Regions from separate parts of the Homo sapiens genome. Here region 2 is linked to region 1. Evidence: fine-mapped expression QTL. A gene starts in region 1. The other region holds a variant in brackets. All regions are shown on one strand. Distances are between the middles of the regions.

Region 1 (9,323 bases):
ATATTTTGGGTCGTTTAGTTTCCAGATATTTTGAGTGTTTCCTGTTATCTGTCTATGACTAGTTTCTAGTTTGATTCCACTGGGTCACAGAACACACTCTCTATGATTTCAATACTTTTAAATCTGTTGAGGCTTGTTTTATAATCCAGTATGTGTTCTATCTTTGTATATGCTTTATGGGCACTTGAAAATAATGTGTATTCTTATGTTGTTGAGTGGACTGTTTCATGAACGTTAATTAGGTCTTATTGGTTAATGGTATTTTTGACTTCGTTTGTTTCCTTGCTGATTTTCTGCCTATTTGTTCTATCAGTTGTTGAGAGAGGAATGTTGAAGTCTCCAACTATAACTGTGGATGTATTTCTCTCTCTTTTTTCTAAATTATACTTTAAGTTCTAGGGCACATGTGCACAACATGCAGGTTTGTTACATATGTATACATGTGCCATGTTGCTGTGCTGCACCCATTAACTTGTCATTTATATTAGGTATTTCTCCTAATGTTATCCCTCCCCACTCCCCCCACCCCACGACAGGTCCTGGTGTGTGATGTTCCCCACCCTGTGTCCAAGTGTTCTCATTGTTCAGTTTCTACCTATGAGTAAGAAAATGCGGTGTTTGGTTTTCTGTCCTTGAGATAGTTTGCTCAGAATGATGGTTTCCAGCTTCTTCCATGTCCTTACAAAGGACATGAACTCATCCTTTTTTATGGCTGCATAGTATTCCATAGTGTATATGTGCACCATTTTCTTAATCCAGTCTATTATCGATGGACATTTGGGTTGGTTCCAAGTCTTTGCTATTGTGAATAGTGCTGCAATAAACATATGTGTGCATGTGTCTTTATAGCAGCATGATTTATAATCCTTTGGGTATATACCCAGTAATGGGATCACTGAGTCAAATGGTACTTCTAGTTCTAGATCCTTGAGGAATTGCCACACTGTCCTCCACAATGGTTGAACTAGTTTACAGTCCCACCAACAGTGTAAAAGTGTTCCTATTTCTCAACGTCCTCTCCAGCACCTGTTGTTTCCTGACTTTTTAATGATTGCCATTCTAACTGGCATGAGATGGTATCTCATTGTGGTTTTGATTTGCATTTCTCTGATGGCCAGTGATGATGTGTGTTTTTTCATGTGTCTGTTGGCTGCATAAATGTCTTCTCTTGAAAAGTGTCTGTTCATATACTTCGCCCAATTTTTTATGCAGTTGTTTGATTTTTTCTTCTAAATTTGTTTGAGTTCATTGTAGATTCTTGATATTAGCCCTTTGTCAGATGGGTAGATTGCAAAAATTTTCTCCCATTCTGTAGGTTGCCTGTTCACTCTGATGGTAGTTTCTTTTGCTGTGCAGAAGCTCTTTAGTTTAATCAGATCCCATTTGTCAATTTTGGCTTTTGTTGCCATTGCTTTTGGTGTTTTAGTCATGAAGTCCTTGCCCGTGCCTATGTCCTGAATGGTATTGCCTAGGTTTTCTTCTAGGGTTTTTATGGTTTTAGGTCTACAATTTAAGTCTTTAATCCATCTTGAATTAATTTTTGTATAAGGTGTAAGGAAGGGGTCCAGTTTCAGCTTTCTACATATAGCTAGGCAGTTTTCCCAGCACCATTTATTAAATAGGGAATCCTTTCCCCATTGCTTGTTTTTGTCAGGTTTGTCAAAGATGAGATGGTTGTAGATGTGTGGTGTTATTTCTGAGGGCTCCGTTCTGTTGCATTGGTCTATATCTTTGTTTTGGTACCAGTACAATGCTGTTTTGGTTTCTATAGCTTTGTAGTATAGTTGGAAGTCAGGTAGCATGATGCCTCCAGTTTTGTTCTTTTGGCTTAGGATTGTCTTGGCAATTCGGGCTCTTTTTTGGTTCCATATGAACTTTAAAGTAGTTTTTTCCAATTCTGTGAAGAAAGTCACTGGTAGCTTGATGGGGATGGCATTGAATCTATAAATTACCTCGGGCAGTATGGCCATTTTCATGATATTGATTCCTCCTATCCATGAGCACAGAATGTTCTTCCATTTGTTTGTGCCCTTTTTGATTTTGTTGAGCAGTGGTTTGTAGTTCTCCTTGAAGAGGTCCTTCACATCCCTTGTAGGTTGGATTCCTAGGTATTTTATTCTCTTTGCAGCAATTGTGAATGGGAGTTCACTCATGATTTGGCTCTGTGTTTGTCTGTTATTGGTGTATAAGAATGCTTGTGATTTTTGCACATTGATTTTGTATCCTGAGACTTTGCTGAAGTTGCTTATCAGCTTAAGGAGATTTGGGGCTGAGATGATGGGGTTTTCTAAATATACAGTCATGTCATCTGCAAAGGGGGACAATTTGACTCCCTCTCTTCCTAATTGAATATTTTTTATTTCTTTCTCCTTCCTGATTGCCGTGGCCAGAACTTCCAACACTGTGTTGAATAGGAGTGGTGAGAGAGGGTATCCCTATCTTGTGCCAGTTTTCAAAGGGAATGCTTCCAATTTTTGCCCATTCAGTATGATATTGGCTGTGGGTTTGTCATAAATAGATCTTATTATTTTGAGATACATCCCATCAATACCTAGTTTATTGAGAGTTTTTAGCATGCAGGGCTGTTGAATTTTGTCAAAGGCCTTTTTTTGCATCTTTTGAGATAATCATATGGTTTTTGTCTTTGGTTCTGTTTATATGATGGATTACATTTATTGATTTGTGTATGTTGAACCAGCCTTGCATCCCAGGGATGAAGCCAACTTGATCGTGGTAGATAAGCTATTTGTGCTGATGGATTCAGTTTGCCAGTATTTTATTGAGGATTTTTGCATCGATGTTCATCAGGGATATTGGTCTAAAATTCTCTTTTTTTGTTGTGTCTCTGCCAGGCTTTGTTTTAAGTGTGTTTGTAGTTTCTCATTGAATCGTTATTACCCTGGCTGCTTTAAAATTTTGTCAGATTATTCAAATGCTTTTCATTCATTTTGAGAACCCTTTGGTTATTAGTATTATGAGTAATTTTTTGGAAAACTGAATGTTTTTGTATTTATCTTATGAGACTCTGGATCTTATTTTATTCATTTTTAGCTTCTTAATACACTCCAGCAGGGGAAGGAGAAGGCTACCTTGTTACTACCAGGTGGAGGTAGAAGCCCAGGTTCTTCACTGGCCTCCATTTACCCCTGAGTGTGTGTGTGTGGTGGGGAGATGATTTCTGGTCCTGCTGGGCTGCTGAACAGGAGCAGAAGGTTTGACTTTCCAACTGTTCTCCACTGACACCATGTTGGGAGCAATTGCAATGCAGGGTGTAGAAGTTCGGGATCCCCTATTGTCTGTACATTTGCCACTAATACCATGAAGGAAGAAAGGAGTCCTTCATCAGCTAGTGAGCATGAAAGTTCCAGCTACTTCCTTTGCCTTCTCTGACACCAACGCAGTGGGGGTTTTGGACCATTTGTCACAGCCACAGGAGGGTGGAAGTCTGAGCTTCTCATTTAGCCTTTACTATCACGGGTGGTGCTGAGGCCTCAGTTTTTGTTTATTTGGTTTTGTTTATTTGTTGTTTGCTTTTCCATGATGTTTGGCTGGAGTAGAATAATGATTATCTAAAAGTTTTCCTTCTAGAGGCCACACCTTTCTTTGTCCTTTGACTAGACAGAGTGGGATCCTGCTGGGGCTTCTTTTGTCTGGGTCTTAGGTTTCTGGATTGCTGACTATTTCAGCTCCGTGTCTGAGAAATCCCAGGGAACTCATTATTGTGTCAGTCCCATGTCCTGAGATCCCTAGCTAGCCTGTCCTTTTGTCCCCACCTTCCAGAGTCTTGTTTTACTTAACATATAATGTCCATGGTTTGTCGTTGCATTTAGCAGGATGAATAGGAAATGTACACCTATTTCATGTTTCTGGGAGTGGACTTTTCAATGATATTTTATCACCAGGATTTTAATTAGGGTCTGCATCCTGAAGCAGGAAGCACTGGTGTCAGTTCCTGGAGGCCGTAAAGAAGACCACTCTAATGAGTTTCTAAACCCAGGAGACTGCTACTCCCTTCTGGCAACACCATGCCCTTTGGGACACACTAGGACATTTTTCACATGCAAGTGCATGATCTTATTTTCGTGAATATAGTTTGTGAAGTATAAACCAGTTTTCCCCTACTTTCTTTAAAACTGTTTACTCATCCTCATTAAGAACACTAAATATAAGGTCTCTAATAGTCCAAGAAGGATTGCAGCACCTATAAGACTAGAAGATTTGAGAATACATATGGATCTTGATATGTTCACCCGTAACCACAGAAAAGTATTTTAAAAAAAATACAACTCTTCCTGGTTGGGGGGAAGCAAAAGGAACTTGAAGAGAAGCTTGAGCAATGCTGGCAAATGTTTAAAAATCAGCATTTGGGGGAGGGGGGTCGGGGGTGGGTGGAAAGCTGCAATTTGTAATGTTTTCAATTCTGTAGTATAAATACTCTTATCATGGCTGATTTCAAGCCACCAATGTGCCAGCACTCATTGTGAAGTTGGGAAGAGATGCTAACAATTGGCTTTCACAAGTCAGGCTGTGCCAGCTCCCCTGCACCACCACAAGTGACAGCAACTGATAAAATTCTTTGAGAAAGAGGCTTCCTGCCCACCGCATTCCACTGTTCAGCTTCTAGAGGAATTGTCAGTAGAACTTCTACTAAATTTGGATACCTGGGGGTAAGATAGACCAAGCCTGTTCTACTACTGGACAATGGACAATCAAACTTGTTTCTAGAACTTCTGGGAATTCTATCCTATGACGATCATGGCATGGAAAGTAAAAATGACTGTATGTGTCAGTGTCAGAGAGGCCTAAGGAACTTTCACCAAGTCTCCTACAGAACAGAGAAGAGAGGCTATGATTTCCTTATGTTCCTGAGAAAGGCAAAGCATTTGTCTGAAAGCGAAAGCCAGGAGATCAAAGTAACTTCCCTGTCACAAGAGGAAACATGAGAGCAGAATTCAGCATGAGTTTTGTATATGGCAATCAAGTATATTCATGGCTATCTAAATGAATGTCCACGTAGAAGTCAGGCAGCACAAAGAACAAGATATAACAGCTGAACGTCCCACTGAAAACCAGCTAAGTGTTGATCACAACCATCAAAAAAATTCTTGTCTTTACTTACAGTGTGACTGTAACTTTCAGAAAGTAACACATCAGTAAAATGCAGGTAATAATGGTAGCTGCTTTTACTAGTGTGAAGGAATGCTTAAGTACATAGTTCCTAAAAGACAGTAAGATTTGAAAAATACATTATACGTGTATTTAAAAGGACTTAAGTATGTCTTGCAACTCTATCTTATTACAGAATCATTTGCTTTTAGGTATATCATTCTGCCTTCAAAAAGGAAGAGGAGCAAGTATTTTCAAGGGCAGGCACTGCTTTTTTATTCTGGAACCCTAGAGATTCAGACCAGGAAACCTGTTAGGATGAGGGCTTTTAAGGAGGCAGGAAGAGAGAAGCTGTGACTTGAAAACAGATGAATCCAGAAGTCACACACACAACTGTTCATCACCTAAGCTGGATATAAGATAATTTTTTATAGTATTTCATTCTTCTTTTCATTACATTGTAGTGTCCTTAAGTAAATCCATTAGCTTGTTTGGGATTAGAGACTATTGTGCTTTTGTTGATATTAACAACAACTTATAAAATGATACATTGTATGTGAGACTCATATATGTAGACAATGTGATGCTCTTGTACACAGAGAGTTAAAGCATGCAGGTGGACAGGGGTGAATGCTGGAGAAAGCGGGGCCAGGGAAGGTAAGTTGTGAGGGAGATATAAGGTCTAATCCAAGCTCTGTGACTGTGGTGTTTGTATTTAGTGGGAATTAAGACTAAATTATGTTTTGTAAAAGAAGTGAAATCTACTTCTTAATTTTTTAGCGCATTCATTGGTGGATTGGTGTCAGGGAAACGTTGCTGGATGGTATTTTGCATACTTAGGTAGTTCTTTGCAGTTCACTACTGTCCTCAAAACCAATCATTTCTTTAAACTGTGTAAAAAACATGATTCATTTAAAGAAAAGCATACTGTTGCTTTAGGGCCTTCAGTGATGTGTACAAAATACAAATTCAACAATTAAATTATGTTAAATTAAATTAACTCTGGCAGCTGTAATTTCCCTTAAAAAGCACAGCAGAGTATTGGGCATGAGAGAATGCCACTCGAAGCCTATTATTTTTTTCCAAAGGTGTCAGTTATTTAATCTTTTGATTCTCAAAATAATTAGTTTGCTCAAATATACGTTTTCTATTATTTAAATATTTCAAATTAAATATATCTATTTGGTATAGCTATAAACTTTTTCTACTTGACATTGTCAATCTATAGTAATAACTTGTCTATTTCAACTGAATCATTAGAAAACATCAACAACATATTAGAAGCACGTAACAATAATCTAGTAACTACCAACATAAACTAATTACTGCAAAAACAATTTGTCACCATATAATAGTGATTACAGCTTGCTTAAAATATATAATTCCATACTTTCATTTTAATCTAATATTCATAGAATATTATGTGTTTCTTGCAGTCTGGAACTACTTCATTTTCTGCACCTAGCAGTAGTTGACTTATTATATTTGTCATTTGGGTTGAATTGAATGAACACATGGTGCCAGAGATGGTGATTTCTCAGTTTTAGTTCTTACCCTTCAGTTCAAGTATCATATTCATCCTTAGGATTATTCTACTTTTTTGCATGTGTATTTTTTGTCTGAATTTCTGAATTTGATTTTAGACCACAAGTAGAGGATGTAATTGACATCAAAAATTAAGGATTACCTAGAACTATCAAAGTTACATTTGGGGATGATTGGAAACAATTCTGGCTGGTATATTTGGCAAATATCTTCATTTCATTCATCAGTTTCAATATGAATAATCATATTGAAAATTGGAGTCAGGCAACCTGGGTTATGGTCGTAGTTCTGACACTAGCTTGTTTTCTAAACTTGGGAAATTCACTTAATTTCTTTTTGTTTTATTTTACTCATTTGTAAACTGTGGATATTACGACTATCTGAAGTAATTTAGTTGTGAGGTTCTAAAATGAAATATTTATATAAAAATAGTTTAAAGGGGGAAACATTTATACCTGTTTTAATTTTCAAGTATATATATAAGTTGATTAATAAAACACATGGTTAACTTTTTTAATTTGAAGCACTGAAGTTCTTTTCTTATGTAAAGATTGTCATTTATCTTCTAGAAACCTAATAATAATGTGAAATATGATTTCATGCACACAATATTTAATATCTATTATATAAAGTCTTAAAAGGTACCAATGCTCTGTTTTCATAAAAAGTAAGTTTTACCAGATATCCTAACTGAGCCAGACATTCCCTGTTCCCAGAGCTTTGCAGAAGTGAGAACTCATTAGTCTCATTAGTCTTCAAAACAAGCAGTCCTTCGATCACAAGGAATCTTGCAGGCTTTCACAGATCTCTGAGGAAGTTTTCTCACCCCTTTCCATTGCCTTAAAACTGTTTGGAACGGAGTTTAGTCTTGTGTGGAGAAAACTATTGGTAATTTTTTCTTTTAATGTTGTGTATCTATGTGACTGTGCGTGCACATTTGTGTGTTTGTGTGTGGGTCAGAGAGAAAGAGAGAGAGAAAGAATCATTGATTTAAAAAGTCGTATAACTTTCTTCTTTATATATTTTCTCTATTATGCATTCGAAATTTTGGTGGGTTGATTAAAATGGGATTTTGATCATCACAGTTATGGGGGCAAAGTATATTTTAAAGGTAGTCTAGGATTATAGTTTTAATACTGACTAGTGATTTGGGCCTGTCCTTAGGCTAAAATTCAGAACAACTTTCTGCAGATTTCTCCATTGTCCCATATGTCATTATGCTCTACTGCAACGGCTAAGGGAGAAGAATAGCTTTCCATTTTTCTGATGTATATTTTTATTTCTTTTTGGTGACTGAGCCACGAGCAGGCCTTTTGCTAATTGAGAGAAGAAAGACAATGTGCTCAGGGTAATTTTTAAAAGCTAAGAGAATTTTCTGAAGATAGAGCCCAAATTGTACAGGCTTTCAAAATAAACACCAGATGTGGTCTGGTTCATGGAATATATTGATTTGATAAGGGATCTTTTTAGGAAAAAAGAGGAAGGAATCAAATCTGGAAGCTATTGTTATGAATCTCTTTTAAGTAGTAAGAAAAAGAATTGGTGTCAAAGATTTGGTGTGGAGCCCAGGCCAGCCACTTAGCTGTGTTCCTTTTTCACTCTGAGACCGCTCTGATTAATTTTTACAAATATAAAGGGAAACCTTTGTTATATATAAGTGTGTAAAACTGTGATGATCAGATCACCTGAAAGTGGTTTTATTTAACAACATTAATGTGGGTGAGGGAATTTGGAAGAAGTTCTGGCCAGCCCTTAGTCCTGGCCTGAGGGCTGAGGAGGAAGCTGTGTTTCTTTCCTAGGCCCATTTGGGATCTCAGATCCTCACCTGGCTGAGGAGAAACACATGAACCTGGGGCACCCATAACCCACAAATCCTGGAATAAGGGCATCTCATTTAGGCTGGGATCATGTGGAACAGTGGTTCTTGGACTTTGTCATCCATCAGAATCTTCTGGAGACCTTGCTATAATATATTTTCCTAAGCCCCATTCCCAGAGATTCAGTGGTAAGTTTAGGGCCCATGAAATCTCATTTCTTCCACACTCATAGTGATGCTAGTGCTACTGGCCTGAGAATCACACTTGGAGAGACTCCCCATCCCAGAGATAGTGAGCACATGACTTCTTTGTGCCCAGAGTCTTGGTGAATCATCTTTCTCACATGGAGAAAAGCTTTTTCCCTAAAGAAAGGAAATAATGAACAAAATAAGAAAAGCAGCAAGGATTCTTTTCCTGGTCCTGCAGTAGGCATCTTAGTGTCCCTTAGTTCTGTGATCTTCACAGCGCCCTGTGAGGAAGCAAGTGCTGTCTTCGTTCATTCAGGCTGCTGTGACAAAAATACCATAAATTGATAAACAACACAAATTTGTTTCTCACTGTTCCGAAGCCTGGAAGTTCAAGATCAGCGTGCTGAGAGATTGGGTGGCTGGTGAGGGCCCACTTTCTATTTCACAGAACAGAGCCTTCTCATTGTGTCCTCACATGGCAGAAGGGGTGATGGAGCTCCCTTGGACTCTGTTATAAAGACACCAATCCCATCTTTGAGTGCTTTGCCTCCATGACCTAATCCCCGCCCGAAGGCCCCACCTCCTAACACCATCACAAAGGTGACTGGATTTCAACATGAGAATTTTGGGGGGACATAGACCATAGCAAGTACTATCTTGGTATCAG
Region 2 (9,323 bases), 63 kb before region 1:
TGGGGTTAGTACAATGCCCAAGGCCTGCCGTGTGGGTCTGTGAGCCGCCTGTGCCACTGACCAGCCTTCTCAAAGGAATCCGTTCGCTGCTGAAGGAAATCACAACTCACTGATGTCTTTTCACCTTTCCTATAAGAATCAAAAAGCAAGAATTTAGACGTTCTCTAGTTGACTAGACATTTTCCTCAGTGGCAAAGTGGTGCAAATAAATATGAATCCTAAAACATTTCAGTTTGATGGATAGTCATGGTACAGCTACTGGATTTTTGTCACTAGGAGCTGCTTTTACTGGTTCTCTCCTCTGGGATTTTAACATCCAACCGTGAATGATAAGTCATCTTTCCCCCACCACCCAAAAAGAAAATCTGAGCACTTAATGCTCACTGGGTGGGGGCAGAATATAATTAATTCATAGTTTTGCCATGCAGGGACCTACCTTGACTCTATCTCTAGGAAATAAATGAAATCCCAGGTGGTAATATGCCTGCTGCTTGAACGCTTTACTTTCTCTGCTTTCTTTGCCTAATCACCCTTGTGACCCTAACATATGACCCCCATATAAGCCCCCGAGGATTCACTAACCTAACAGTGATCTTTAGGTATTCTCTAAAAGCACACGCCAGGTTCCACTTGCTTTCAGAATCTTTTATTGTCACTTTTAAGGCTTATTTATCGAGTGTATGAAATTTTGGCCCTAGTAGCATTATTCTCCTCATACAGTTCTTTCACTCGTCTAGAAATGTTAGTGTATTTTCTGCTTACTTATATATTTTGTTAGAGTTTATCAACCTATGTATATATCTGCCTAGTTGTAAAAGTAGGAATAGGCTCTAGAGATTTTTAAAAAAGGTTGGTGAATTGGGTTGAAAAACTAATTGATAATTATGGGAGTGAAAGCATAAACAAGGTGAAAAATATAATGTTTATTGTTGAAGTTTAGTTTAATTTTTATGGTTAAGTAAAAAAATGTAGATGTAGTTGAATTATTTTGAATAACCAATGTCTGAATATGGGGAGGAGACTAATTTTAATGTGAAATAAATATAATTGATTTCCAGGCTGTACACATATATGCAATAATACATGCATGTACTGATGAATGGGTTTTTAAAAGTATCTAACTCAATTTACTCTTAATCTACTTTAAATTTCCTATTTAGTAGTAAATCTACTTTTCTCTAATGCTAACAGCTACATAAGAGCTGTGAACAAAAGGCTTTGATCCGTTCTCTGTTTTTTTTTTTTTAAAGAGTTTGAACTTAAACATGCAAATGTCTGTATCTTTTGTTGCTTATACAATTTGATTTATTCCTAATTGGTGGGGAGTTACTATGGATGTTGGTGGTTTGGGCTGTAATATGAAAAAAATGGTTACCTAACATGTGCTGTTGTTTTTTAATGTGGGCATACATTTAAAATTCTGTGGCTTTCCCTCTCCTCCCCCAACCTCAAAAAGCAAAATGCATTTAGCTTTGAGCTAAAGAAAGCTGCGGCTGGAGCAAGCATCTCCCAGCTCACACAGGCATTAACATATACGGTCATTGTCTCTGCTGCTTCCCACTGCAGCTTTATATAATAAAACAAGCCGCGTCAAATAGGCTAGGCTGTAATATTAGGTAAAATCTAATTTCAGTTTGGTTATCACATAGCGTTCATTTCCCTAAGGGAGGAGAAAAAATTAAATTTGTAAGCTTAAGATTCCAGCTGAAGTAGTAAGTATGAAAGGCTTTCCTCTGCCTTTTATTATTCACTTTATGAATTAGCCTTAGTTTACTTGTTTCGATCGGTGTCGACATATTTCTGAATACTATTAGCATAGCAATCAGGGCTGTTCTCAGGTTATTGAATAGTGTGTTGACTTCCGAAATAAATAGATATGCAGTGTGAAGGGCGAGCTGTCACTTTAGGAGAGCTTTCCTGATCTAAATTAAAAGGCACTTCTAATTGAAAACTATAATAGCAGGAGGGTTAGAGAGACAATGAAACTGCTTGGTCCCTTTCAATTTTCACGGGATTCTGTTAGTGAATGTAGAAGAAAAAGTAAAATGAAAATATTAAATTACAAATTGCAATTTAAGCAGCAATATTAAATTATACTTAAATAGCCATATTGCTCTGAAGCAATTTTAGATGCTTGATTTAAAGACTCTCAGTGCATTTGAGTTCTCACTATTATATTCTGATTTATCTGTTTTATCAGTTAACATATAATTCTATGTTTACACCAGCAAATGTGTCTTTATCTATGAAATAAGGAATCGGTCCTGAAAGACTTTTCATTTTGCACTTTGTGCTCACTAATTCAGTGTTGCATTAGTTTTTGTGTATCTTTTATCATACCTGAGGGTGTATATCAGGGATAGGGAACCTCAAAGTCAGAGCAATTTTATAAAATCTGAGGCAATCATTCATGAGTTGTCTAAGTGAAAGAGTTTCAGAAATTAATAACAGCAAATCAATTATAAATTTAAGTAATAGGTAAAATTATTAGCTATTTCAGTTTCATGACTAGCTTACCAACTGTCTGATTCTATATATTTTGGTTCTTTAAGGGTTAACAATTGGAGGCCTGTCTATAGCTCATTTCTATAGTAACAGCAAGACTGAGACTTTTTATGGGCACCTAATAATTAGAAAGTGCTAGAAGGTATAACAATATAATGAATCAAAACTGATAGACTTGTGGGTTTCCATAGAAACATGTATAATTATGATAATCGGTCCCTGGCGTACCCTCAGAATCGTATACATTCAGTTAAATGCAATAAACATTAGGCACTATTTAGTGAGCTGTGATGCAGATTAACAGTGTGAGATACAGGGAAGCTATGAATAAAATTGCTGTACAGTTTATCTCAAACTAATTTCCCAGATTGCTTTAATAGATGTAGTGTGTGGATGTGAAACATTGGAAGTGTATTTCTGTTAGTGGTAAAGCTAACAAAGATAATAATTCATAAAGTGGAGGACTGATTGTTAATTTCAGTACAGATCAAAATGGGCCATGGCACATTATTCAGCGTGGAATCCCAGAGCCCTCGGAGTAAATGGCAGATTGGGTCTCCCTTTGCTGATTTATTTTAAAAGTAAATTATAAATCTTTTTATGGTTGTCCATTTTTCTTTAACCTTTTCTTGCCCCTCTTCTACCTCCCCATTTTAGGCATAATTTTCACAGACCTGTTATGGGGAAGGAATCACGTTCTTGTTCTCCCTGACTCTCGTCTGGGAAAAGGCAATGGTTCCTTCTGGCTCCTTTGCACATCTAGTATTTATTTTACCCTCAGCTCGTAGATTTCAGATGTACTGGGCCTGAGCATCTGCAAAGGCCTAGGAAACAGCCAGAATTTCATTGTAAGGTGGGGCAAAAAATTGGGTGTCTGCATGTATATGTGTGTATGGGGGGAAGGAGATATTGTCGGGGAGGCAGTGTCAGTGTTACAGGATGTTAGATATTATTTTATTGGATTTTTCCTGTTTCCTTACTGAGGAGGTAACATATCAAGTTGGAAGATGTCAGTCTGTTCTCCGGGGCGCGGGTGGGGGCGGGAGGAAGATTAGGGGGCCAGGATAAGGTGATGTGGGGTTGGAGTTACATGAGATAAGAGATAGAGCAATGGGAGGAGAAGCTTCTAAGCTTGTGTATGGAGTGTGTGTGTGTGTGTGTTTGTGTATGTGTGCGCGCACACGCACACTTATAGGTCTGAATTATCTATCAATACTACCCTCCTCTGCCAATGCCCATGATAACCTCTCAAGCACATTTCACAAGAGAAGCGTGAGTCTCCCCTGAAGCGGGTGGGATGAGAACTGAGACATGCACGTGTGAGATCTGAGAGCCCTTAGCGATCGAGAATGTCAAGCTTCAGGATGAAATTACACAAATGTGCTGCATTATCTCTTGTACT[A/G]TCTTTAAAAAGTAAAATAAATAAAAGCTTTTGGGGGAGGAATGTTTTTCCTCACCAGCTTCAGAGCTGCTCTTAGGCCTGACAGTTGAGCTGGGCAGGCCTTTCCTTCGACTCCGCGCTGCCGCGATATTCGGATATTCGGCACAGGGGGCCTTTTAGAGTCACAAGGCGATGTACATCAAGCCTTTCTTCTCTCCTTCATGATTGTGTTACTTTCTAATACTATAATGGTGTTCTACAAAAGATTCTGGTTCCTGCCTGGCAGGAGTTGAAGTGCTGGGGGTGTGGGGGAGGGAGGTTGGCCATGTTCTCTCTACAAGCAGAACTTCTCACTCCCTGTTTCTAGTCTCCCGTTTTCCAAAGACCCATAGCTAAGGGGAGCACGCTCATAGGTTTTCATTTTGAATGACAACACAAATCTATTGAGAATTTTTTTCAGGAAATGTTTTTCATTCCTCCCTGTTTCTCTGCCTCTGTCTCTCTTTCTCTTACCTATGGCAAAAAATTACATTAATAGGATGGTAAATAAAAACATGATAGACAGCATTTCTTCTTTTAAGCTTATTTCACATGGTTTATCTAATATTTTGATCAAACTTCAGCATTCTTTTTCCCTCATAATTCATTCCAGTGACATTTGGCATATAGCATTTACCCCAGCATTTATGATATTATTCCACAATGTCTAAACATTTTTATAGCTTGTTTTATATACACATATGTGACTATGTTAATGAATTATTCAACAAATAGACGGCAAGGATCCATTTAACAAGCACATACACATATTTGCACATAACACACCTATACATTTATAACATTATATTTGCAGGTATGTACATGCATGCATGACAACTCAATTTCAGGTTATTGTATTTCACAAGACTCCTGCAGTACTTGTTATGGTAAATTATGAATATATGTAATTAGGCAATACATGGTTGTAGTATTTTATCTCCACAAAGAGCACTAATTTCTCTGGACAAAAATGAGGAATGATGCTTTTCTGCCATCTCAAGACATGCTCATGCATATATATTGGTTGAATAAGAAGCTTATTACTAAATGTTTCACAAATATTGATTAAATGTTGATTATGTTCAAGGCACTATTAATTTTGTATGGAACTGTAAACGCATATATCAGGATAACTATTCATGTACATATTATTTACAAATGGGTGTGTTGTTGTCGACTATTTTAGTAAGAAATGCTTGAAACAGCTTTAAATGAAACAAATTTATAAGCCATTTATTCTTTATTTCAACAAATATCTCTTGAACGCTCACAACGTGATAGACATATTTTTCAGTGGTGAAGATTCGGCATTGAACAAAGTTCCTGACCTCTTGTAGCTAGTGTTCTAATGGCAGAAAGTAGAGAACAAACAAGTAAATATGTATCAAGTGATGATAAACAGGGTGAAGTACGGGAAAAACATGGATAAACAAAGGGAATGCTTTGAACTTGATAATGCAGAAAATTAAGAAATGCCCAAGTCATAAAGTGTGTTTTAAAAAAGGAAAGAAAAAAGCTAACATGTGTTGAATATCTAGCAGATACCTGGTGGTGTGCTATGCTTTTCCCCACGCTTAGTGTATCATTTACTACTTATATCTGCCCTGAAAGGTGGACAGGCATTACCATTTTTATTTCACAAGGAAAGAAGCTGAAATTCAGAGCTGTAAGCCCCAGCAAGACCACACAGTTGCTATGCTTGGATTTAAACCCAGCTCTCCTAGTTCTAAAGCCCATGGCTCTTAGCAGCATTGCGCCTCTATATATTAGGAACAAAGAATAATAAGCATCGTCAGTACTGCACAGAAATATAACCAGCTTTTTTTTTTCCTTCTACAGCTCAAGAATCCTGTTTCTCTGACAGAGGAAAGGAACAACAACTTGACTGGACACATCCTAACCCAACCATACGCTGTGTTACTTCCTCCACTGCGCCACACACAGCTATTATTCTAAGCTCTCTTATTCAAACCCTTAAGGATTTGTAAGGTAGAAACTCTTCCACATGGCTGAATCTCTGCTGCTTATTTTTAGTTGAGTACTGTTGCTGTGAGGATTCTTCTATACTTTCTCTTTCACTGAATCTTTTGCCTTTAAAATGAAATTGTTTCTGTTCTATAAAACCTACAAAGACTTTAGAATGTTGTCCTTTGAAGATTCTAGTTTAATTATTTTGACTGAATTTTTAAATGATTCTGACGGAAGAAAAGGAGTTTGATTTGGTTGAATGGTCGGTATTAGAAATATTGTCCAGTAGGATTTCTACAGGGAAGACCCCAGACTTTGTCTGTTCTTCAGGTATTTGGAAAGAAGAGGCGATAGTCTTAGGCAGCATTATAGATAGAGCAGCATTTTTCTTTCAAATGGGAAGATATATGTGAATTTAAAATGGAAAAAGCAATTATACTATATACATTCTGCACATACCTATATTTGCACACAGTAATCCTCATCACTGGGGCTTAAATCAATACTGAAGACCATTTGATCATATTGTTCAATTTAACTAGTATTTTTTTGTTTACTTGATTAAAAATTATTCATTGGCTTAATCACAAAGTGCAATAAAAGGTAGAAATTGTATACTACACATTTACAGGAACACAAGCACATTCCCTTCCTTGGGGTTTTTATCTAATGAACACTAATGACCAGTTTGATGATACAGTTAAAATTAACTAATATTTTGATAGATTTGATTAAATAAATTGTTTAGGTTTGTGTCCTGATCTCCCAGATGCTTTTGAAAAGAGTAAACCTCTCTGTAATAGTAAGCCTCTCTCTCTGTTTTCCTCTCAGAAAAACATTCTTAACATGCTTTCTCATTTAAGTTTCTCATTTTAGTTTTAATTCCTTTCTAAATGAGGAAGCAAAAGAAATAGTAAGGGCATTTTGCTTTTGATTTCCTCTATTGTTTTATGAAAGCCCACTTGTCTTGTGTCTATTTATTTTTTCCATTTACAGAACTTGGAAAGAGAAAGTGACTTCAGACAGTTGCTGTGAGTAGTAATTAATTCCAGTGATCAGTGTGAGCTTGCGTATGGGCATTTATGAAATGATGTTAGATTATGAAATGCCAAGTGCCCCTCCTATTCTAGATGTGAATTTAGTGAGTGCTGTTGTACAGGAGAAAGGGGCTAATACAGACCTTTCTTTTTGGGCCAAGGGTGGCTGCTCTGCACCAAAGTTGCTATTTTTTTAGTTGTTGTTTAGCAAGTCCTACTGTTAAAAACTCAGTCAATGGCAGCCAGGCCGGTGTAGCATTGTTGGCATTGAGTTAGATCCAAGCACCAATTGAATCTCTTGGTTCTCTGATTGAAGACTAGATATGCCTATCACATACTGCTCCCAATCACATACACACAACCCTCAATGTACAACAACCTATTATTAAAAAAGTGTTAGAAAATGATCATTTACATAACTCAAATATCCTACAGTATATTGGCTAAATGATTGTATAGCTATTCAGTAGAATGTTATTTAGCCATTAACAGACATGTTATAGGAACATAATTGATGACTTGGTCAAATATACATTACGTATTGTTAAATTAAGAGTAGGTTAAGGCTGGGTATAGTGGCTCACGCCTGTAATCCCAGCACTTTGGGAGACTGAGGCAGGTGGATCATGAGGTCAGGAAATTGAGGCCATCCTGGCCAACATGGTGAAATCCCGTCTCTACTAAAAATACAAAAATTAGCCAGGCATGGTGGCACATGCCTGTAATCCCAGCTACTCGGGAGGCTGAGGCAGGAGATTCGCTTGAACCAGGGAGTCAGAAGTTGCAGTGAGCTGAGATTGCACCACTGCACTCCAGCCTGGTGACAGAGCGAGACTCCATCTCAAAAAAAAAAAAAAAAAAAAAAAAAGTCTGGACCAAAATACCCAAATATATGGATAGTAGAATTATTAGTAATTTTTCTTTTTAAAAGCTTTTCTCACATTTTCTAGTTTTCCTACAATAACTACCTACCCATTCTGTGATAAAATTGAGTTTTAAAAACAATCAAAATGTTTTCTAAGTTTTTATATTAAGTGTGCACATACATATACATACATGTGTAAGAAAAAAAGGTGAAATGCCAACAAAGTCATCTCTGGACTGTGAGATTATTATTGATTTCTTTTTGCTTCATCCTTTTCTGTAAGGTCTTAATTTTCTCCAATGTGAAAATATGACTTTTGTAATTAGAAAAAAACAATGCTTACAAAAGTAGAAAGAAAATACTATATATTCTAATAGTCAGTGTAAACAGTTTGTTCCAATAAGATCAGGATATGATGACTGGCCTAAAATATCCTAATAGAAGAGCCTATGATACTCATGCATTAAAACATGCATTACAATAAGACAACTCTGTACAGTGTCCTCATCCTTTTAGCAGTTGTGTTTGTATGAATACATATTATTCCTCATTAAAAAAACAGTGGCATAGTAACTTCATTTTCTTTAACACTGTCAGTCCTCTCTTTTTCCCTTCTGTGGGAGGCTCTGGCTCTTTTTTTTTTTTTGCATGTGCCTTTATTTCTCTTTCCCCTTTGTCATTACCATTGGTCACTTGGACTTGGCAGGAGTTTGTTTCTAAGCATAGCTGCTGATATGAGATACAGTTACTAATTTGAAGCACTACCTTATCCAAACTGAAAACTCTAGTTTCTCTTTTGTGTCATTGAAAGGTTATATGAAAATCACTCCCCTTCAACACAAAAAAAGTGAAAATTTAAAATTAGCAGACAGTGCCAATGGAAAAATGGAGAAAGAAAAATGGGCCCAATTTTAAAGAGTTTGAGCAAGCCAAAGAATAATGATTCATTGACAAATCCTTGTATTCTGAATGCGGTAAGATCATTAGTCATTTTTCGCTTTCTTCTGAGTTGGGACATACTCTTTGTGTAATTTTTTAATGTGGTCTCAAAATAATTGTTTTTTTAAAAAATCAGGTAATTAATTAGTTTTTGAACCAGCAATTGTTTTGGTATTTGGACCCCTTTTCTCAATCACTGAAAAAAACAAACAAACAACAACAACAACAAAAAGAAGAATAGATCACTTGAGAGAAAAGAACTGCCAAATTTGATAGTAGTTACAGAAAACAACTAAATGAGCACCCTTGTAGACTATTAGTGTAAACACACACAAAAAAATTTCTTCTAAAATCTATGTGCATGTCTATCTTTCTAAAAAAAACTTCATTTTTTCCCTGTTTACACCTTGCAGGACACAAAAACTAGTATTTTTGCATTTCCCTTTTTTCACTGTAACTTCCGACTAAAGTCATTATATAGAAGAAAATGAGTCCAAAGAGGAAGTTAATGCCAAAAGCCATAGAAAAACCATCACTTCTCTCAGCTTTTCAACTTATTTTTGTGACTATAGTTCTTACAGTCAGACCA

Direction of the effects. Alleles are on the strand shown, and positions count from the first base shown. SD is a standard deviation of normalised expression in the study named.
With allele A in place of G in region 2, the expression in sigmoid colon of the gene that starts at base 4,749 in region 1 is lower (small effect, 0.32 SD a copy in GTEx).

The links. PIP is the estimated chance that this variant, and not a neighbour inherited with it, causes the effect. A credible set is the group of variants that fine-mapping cannot tell apart.
Region 2: its variant is the best candidate, but not a certain one, in a credible set for the expression of LINC01289 in sigmoid colon (GTEx, PIP 0.77).

The regions. Positions count from the first base shown.
Region 1 is chr8:63,764,682-63,774,004 of GRCh38, forward strand. LINC01289 (long intergenic non-protein coding RNA 1289) reads left to right here and starts at 4,749. Exons shown (of 3, transcript NR_038875.2): 1 at 4,749-5,164.
Region 2 is chr8:63,701,561-63,710,883 of GRCh38, forward strand. No RefSeq gene overlaps it. Among named protein-coding and RNA genes, the nearest start is that of LINC01289, 63 kb to the right of the region's middle. The variant A/G (reference allele first, on the strand shown) is at 3,908.